Regions from separate parts of the Homo sapiens genome. Here region 2 is linked to region 1. The links come from fine-mapping of genetic effects on gene expression. A gene starts in region 1. The other region holds a variant in brackets. All regions are shown on one strand. Distances are between the middles of the regions.

Evidence for each region. PIP is the estimated chance that this variant, and not a neighbour inherited with it, causes the effect. A credible set is the group of variants that fine-mapping cannot tell apart.
Region 2: its variant is the best candidate, but not a certain one, in a credible set for the expression of BCO2 in whole blood (TOPMed, PIP 0.86).

The regions. Positions count from the first base shown.
Region 1 is chr11:112,174,220-112,177,144 of GRCh38, forward strand. It overlaps BCO2 (beta-carotene oxygenase 2), which reads left to right and starts at 1,293. Exons shown (of 12, transcript NM_031938.7): 1 at 1,293-1,470. The coding sequence starts at 1,383.
Region 2 is chr11:112,097,193-112,100,117 of GRCh38, forward strand. No RefSeq gene overlaps it. Among named protein-coding and RNA genes, the nearest start is that of SDHD, 12 kb to the left of the region's middle. RefSeq lists a silencer at 2,579-2,787. The variant T/A (reference allele first, on the strand shown) is at 1,574.

The sequences.
Region 1 (2,925 bases):
AGGCATGGTGGCTCACACCTGTAATCCCAGCAGTTTGAAAGGCTGAGGCAGGCAGATCACTTGAGGTCAAGAGTTCGAGACCAGCCTGGCCAACGTGGCAAAACCCTGTCTCTAATAAAAATTAAAAAAAGTAGCTGGGTATGGTGGCGTACACCTGTAGTCCCAGCTACTCAGGAGGCTGAGATAGGAGAATCACTTGAACCCGGGACACAGAGGTTGCAGTGAACCGAGATTGTGCCACTCTACTCCAGCCTGGGTGACAGAGTGAGACTCTGTCTCAGAAAATAATAATAATTATTATTATCTCACAACTGGAGAAATGCTATTGCAGGAATACTATTGCCCTTTAATTTACACTTCTAATGTTACTCTTTACTATTTCAATAAAATATCACAAATTTATAAGTTATTTTTCATTGATTACTAATCAAAATATATACCGAACTATCTTCGTACTCTGCTATATGTATTAAGACACTCCCTTCTGACAATTTTAACCACTTCTTTCTTGAAATACAATTTTGCTAGGAAAACATGATATGTTAATGTTAAAAGCAACTCTGTGGCAGTGCTGTGGGAGTTACTAGAAGACCTTTTGGTAAGGGAGTCAGAGAGGTAGATTTTAAATTGGATTTTTGAAAAGGAAAGGGGATATTTCAGGCAGGGGAAAAGTTTCTTCAGTGGCACAGAAGAACAAACGTATCATGGTATGTTAGTCACTTTGCTGGGATGATAATTCATGAAGGGGAATAGTGTATGGTCTAAACTGGAGAGCAGGGACAATCTTGTTTCTTGGTATTCTTACTTTGTAGCACAGTATTTGCTACATTGGTGCTAAAAATGTTAATAAAGTCATATACATTTTAAGGGCATACTTTCACTCATGCTAGATTGTCAGAAAATGTTCTGTAAAATTAATGAATAGAAAAGAAAAGGAAGGATGAAGTGATTTAAAGGCAGAGAAAAAGGATGAAAGGTAAATTGTTGCCAGATTGTAGCGTCCTCTAGTGGCAGTCTAAATTCGGACTTTATTCTGTGTCGGAATCTTCCAGAAGAGGAGTGGCATAAAAAAATTGATGCTGTGCATCAGGATAAACGGACTTAACTGTAGTGTGAGAACAGGTTTGAAAAAGAAAAGTTTAGGGCGGGGGAGACCACTATTGGTGGTCTAATTTTAATATTTCAAACAGCTGCGTATTATAGCTAGGGTGTTTGGACGGTTGTCATGGAAATAAGCCCCGCCCCTTAAGCTGCGTCCTCTCTTTGACCTGTCAGTGAGGGAGGGACAGTCCAGGCAGTTCTGTGCGTGTTCACTGTTTAGTAGTACTCAAAACTGCCAGTGTGAGAGGATTTGGAAATCACTGGATCTGCTCAATACAAAAATGTTTTTTCGAGTCTTTCTCCATTTTATCAGGAGTCATTCTGCCACTGCAGTGGATTTCCTTCCTGTGATGGTGCACCGGCTCCCAGGTAGAGGGTTTGCCCCTTTCTCTTCCTCATCCTCCTCTTCTTGCCAGTCTGCGCTTAGAATTCTGTGCCTCTTTCCTGAAGGTTGCTGGGAGCTTCTGAAGCTTTGTGTCCTGTGTGGCTCAGATGAGATAGCAATTCCGCAGAGTCCTGGAAGTTAAAGAAGGCTGAGTTAGGATTGTTTCCTCATGGTCAGGGAAACAGCCTTCACATTTGTATATTTTATGCAATATTTAAGGCAGGATTCAGGGACTTGGTATTCTTTGGGATTTGCAATAAGAAGAATATTCAATATTTAGGCTTTTCTAAATTGAAAAATCACTGCCACACGTTCTAATGTAATTGTTTGGTTTCTCTATTTGCATTTTGCGGGGACTGCCTTAAAACTCATTTATGTTTTATAGCCTTCTATTATAGTTACCATTGTTACATGATTTTATGTATAGAAATTGGCTGATCTAGAGCTTTCAGAAATCATACTAATATGCACTATAAATTTTAAAATTACTTAATGTAGTAATTTAATGTTTGCAGTATGCAAGGGAATGTATTACGTACTGGAAGGAGAGAGGAGACAAACACCAGACCCTGTACTCAAGGAGTACTGGTAGTATCATTTATCATACAAGACAGATAAGATAAGGTCCATATGAGAGCTATAAACAGATGCTGTGAGTTCAGACTAAGGAGAATCAGTTCTTGCTGTAGGTAAGGGGAATGCTGTGTTTATAAAGCAAATGACATGGCAACTGGATCTTGAAGGATGAGTTAGGTGAGTAAATTTCATCTGAAGGAGTTGGGAAATATCCTAGATGAAGAAAATTGATTGGCGGGGGGGGGGGAATTAAACATTCTATTTTGACATGTTGAAAGTCACCTGCAAGAAGTAATTGATGAAATTAAGAGACTAGATGAGATTGCCAAGGGAGAGTGCTGAGATTAAAGATCCAAGGTAGGACCTTAGGAACATTCATGAAGTGGTAAGGGGGATAAGGAGCCCATAAAGGGAATTAACATTTGGAAAGCATCCACTATCTTTATATTTGATTATGACAACAGACATAAACAGGAAGTATTAACCTCCTTTTATTTCCATTTTATCATGGAAAAACCTGAGGCTCAGAGACATTAAGTAACTTGCCCAAGGTTGTCAGCTAATAAGTAATAAAACTAGCAGAATGCAGAGAGTAGTTATAGGGCAGCAGGAAAGTTAGAATAGGACAATGTCTCAGAAGCTACGAATAGAAAGGAGTTTAAGAAAGTGTTAATGTCAAATTCTATGGAAACTTTGAAGAGCATGTAGCAGATTACCAGTAGCATGCAATAGAGTATACAACATATAGACATGTAAATATTTTCTACAATGTAAAATGCTTTAAATTTGTGTATCTCTACTTAGACAAATGCCCAATCAGGCCATTCAATTTACTTAAAAAAGTAAGATGAGTAAAATTACAT
Region 2 (2,925 bases), 77 kb before region 1:
CTCATGCCTGTAATCCCAGCACTTTGGGAGGCTGAGGCAGTAGGATTGCTTGAGGCCAGGAGTTTAAAACCAGCGTGGGCAACATAGCAAGACCCTGTCTCTACAAAAATACAATAAAACAAAAAAAAGATTAGCCGGGCATCACTGGCAGTGGCATGTGCCTGTAGTTCTAGCTACTTGGGAGGCCGAGGTGGGAGAATTGTTTGAGCCCAGGAGTTTGAGGTTACAATGAGCTATGATCATACCACCGCACTCCAGCTTAGGTGACAGAGTGAAATCTTGTCTCTTTAAAAAAAAAAAAAATCCAAGGGCTAACAGCAATAGTAGTTTCTGACGGTAAGCAGGACATGATCAGAACTGTGCTTTAGAAATAATTTGGGTACCATTAGGTGGGTTAATAAGCTAGAGGTAGAAGGACATGTGAGGGGATAGAGACAGAATAAAGGGCCTGAACTTTGAGAGTAGCAGTGGAAGTAGGAGTCAATCTCAAAAGGTATTGTAGAAGTCAAAAACATTAATTCATTCATTTGATAGATACTAAGTACCTCATGTAATCAGCACTGTGCCAGGTACTGTGGATAACGATAAAATTTTACCTGCCTTTGAAGGGAATTCATAGTCTAATTGGGGCAACAGAAGAATGACTGCAATACGGTGTAGTAAGTGCAGTGATGGTGAAGCACGTCATGCGCTGTGATGTAACAAAGGGTGCAGTAAGGATTTGCCTGCAAGTTTCCTGGAAGAGAAGATTTGTAACCTGGGTTTTGAAAGATAAGGAGCTGACAGTGGCTGGGGAAGCTGGGATGAGGTGTAGGGTTGACTGGAGGATGGCAGATCAAGCAAAAGATGATATGTAGTTTGGTATGACCCAGCACAGGGAGGGACTGATTGTAGAGGACCTTATATGCCACGATAAGTAATTGAAACTTTATCTTTTTTTTTTTTTTTTTGAGACAGAGTCTGACTCTGTGGCCCAGGCTGGAATGTAGTGGCGCGATCTTGGCTCACTGCAACCTCTGCCTCCCATACTCAAGACATCCTCCCACCTCAGCCTCTTGAGTAGCTGGGACTACAGGCACATGCCACCATCCCTGGCTAATTTTTGTATTTTTTGTAGAGATGGGGTCTTGCTCTGTTGCCCAGGCTGGTCTCAAACTCCTGGCCTCAAGTGATTCACCCACCTCCGCCTCCCAAAGGGCTGGGATTTCAGGCGTGAGCCACTGTGCCTGGCCTGCGACTTTATCTTGACAGCAATATGGAGTTACTGAAGACTTAATTATGCAAACGGCATGATCCAATTTTTATTTTAAATAGGTTTTGCTGACAGCTATGTAAAGAATGGATTTGTGGGAGGTAAGCATGGAAACAGATTATTTTAGTGACCCAGAAAAGAAATAATGAATTGTGAAGGCAATTGTAGCTAGAATGAAGGAGAGAACAAATTTAAGAAATATTTAGAACTTAGAATCAATGAGAGTTATACTAAGATGTGAACGCTTGAGGGAGGAAGGAGCTTTGCTCAATTTTTTGTTGTAAATAGGTGGATGGGAGGTAGTGTCATTAAAGAAAAATG[T/A]TGAAGGAAAATTAGATATGGTACTGGAATCAGTAACTACTGAAGTTTTGGATTTGTGAGACGGCTAGGAAGAGATAGAATTTGTAGACTTCTATTTTTTGGCAATATGGCAGACTCAATTTTAGAAAGTATTTACTTTGATATGAAGCCTGTTAGAATGTTAAACAAGAACACCTTTAAAAATATTTCATTTATTTATTTGGGACGGAGTTTCACTCTTGTTGCCCAGGCTGGAGTGCAATGGCATGATCTCGGCTCACTGCAACCTCCGCTTCCTGGGTTCAAGCGGTTCTCCTGCCTCAACCTCCTGAGTAGCTGGGATTACAGGTGCCCACAACCACACCTGGCTAATTTTTGTATTTTTAGTAGAGATGGGGTTTCAGCTATGTTGGCCAGGCTGGTCTCAAAACTCCTGACCTCAGGTGATCCACCCACCTCGGCCTCCCAAAGTGCTGGGATTACAGACCACTGCACCCGGCCAAAACATATTATTTAGTTTGCAAAAAGAAATCTTCTGGAGCCAGACCAAAGTAAGTCTGCAGCTAGGGAGGTAAGCAAGTGCTTAGGGTATCAGTTGCCCCTAAGAGTATCTACTAAGCCCAGGTGGCCCAGAGTTCTAGTCTTCTTCTTCTTATTATTATTATTATATATATATTTTTGAGACAGAGTCTCGCTCTGTCACCCAGGCTGGAGTGCAGTGGTGCGATCTTGGCTCACTGCAAGCTCCGCCTGCCAGGTTCACACCATTCTCCCACCTCAGCCTCTGGAGTAGCTGGGACTACAGGCGCCTGCCACCATGCCCGGCTAATTTTGTTTTCATATTTTTAGTAGAGACGGGGTTTCACCGTGTCAGCCAGGATGGTCTTGATCTCCTGACCTCATGATCCGCCTGCCTCGGCCTCCCAAAGTGCTAGGATTACAGGCATGAGCCACCACGCCTAGCCATTATTATATTTTTTTGAGTCAGAATCACGCTCTGTTGTCCAGGTTGGAGTGCAGTGGCGTGATCAAACTCACTGCAGCCTTGATCTCCTGTGCTCAAGTGATCCTCCCACCTCAGCCTTCTGAAAGTAGCTGGGATTACAGACTTGTGCCACCATGCCTAGCTAATTTTTTTGATTTTTAGTAGAGATGAGGTCTCACTGTGTTGCCCAGGCTGGTCTCAAACTCCTGAGCTCAAGTAATCCACCTGCCTTTGCCTCCCAAAGTGCTTGCATTATATGCTTGCGCCACCATGTCTGGCCGGATTCTAGTTTTAAGAAGGTGGCACATAGGCCAGGAGAAAAGCTTAGGGCTCAAACCAGGGAGTTAGAATGAAGATTCCCCTAAACCAAGAACCATAAAGAGTTTTG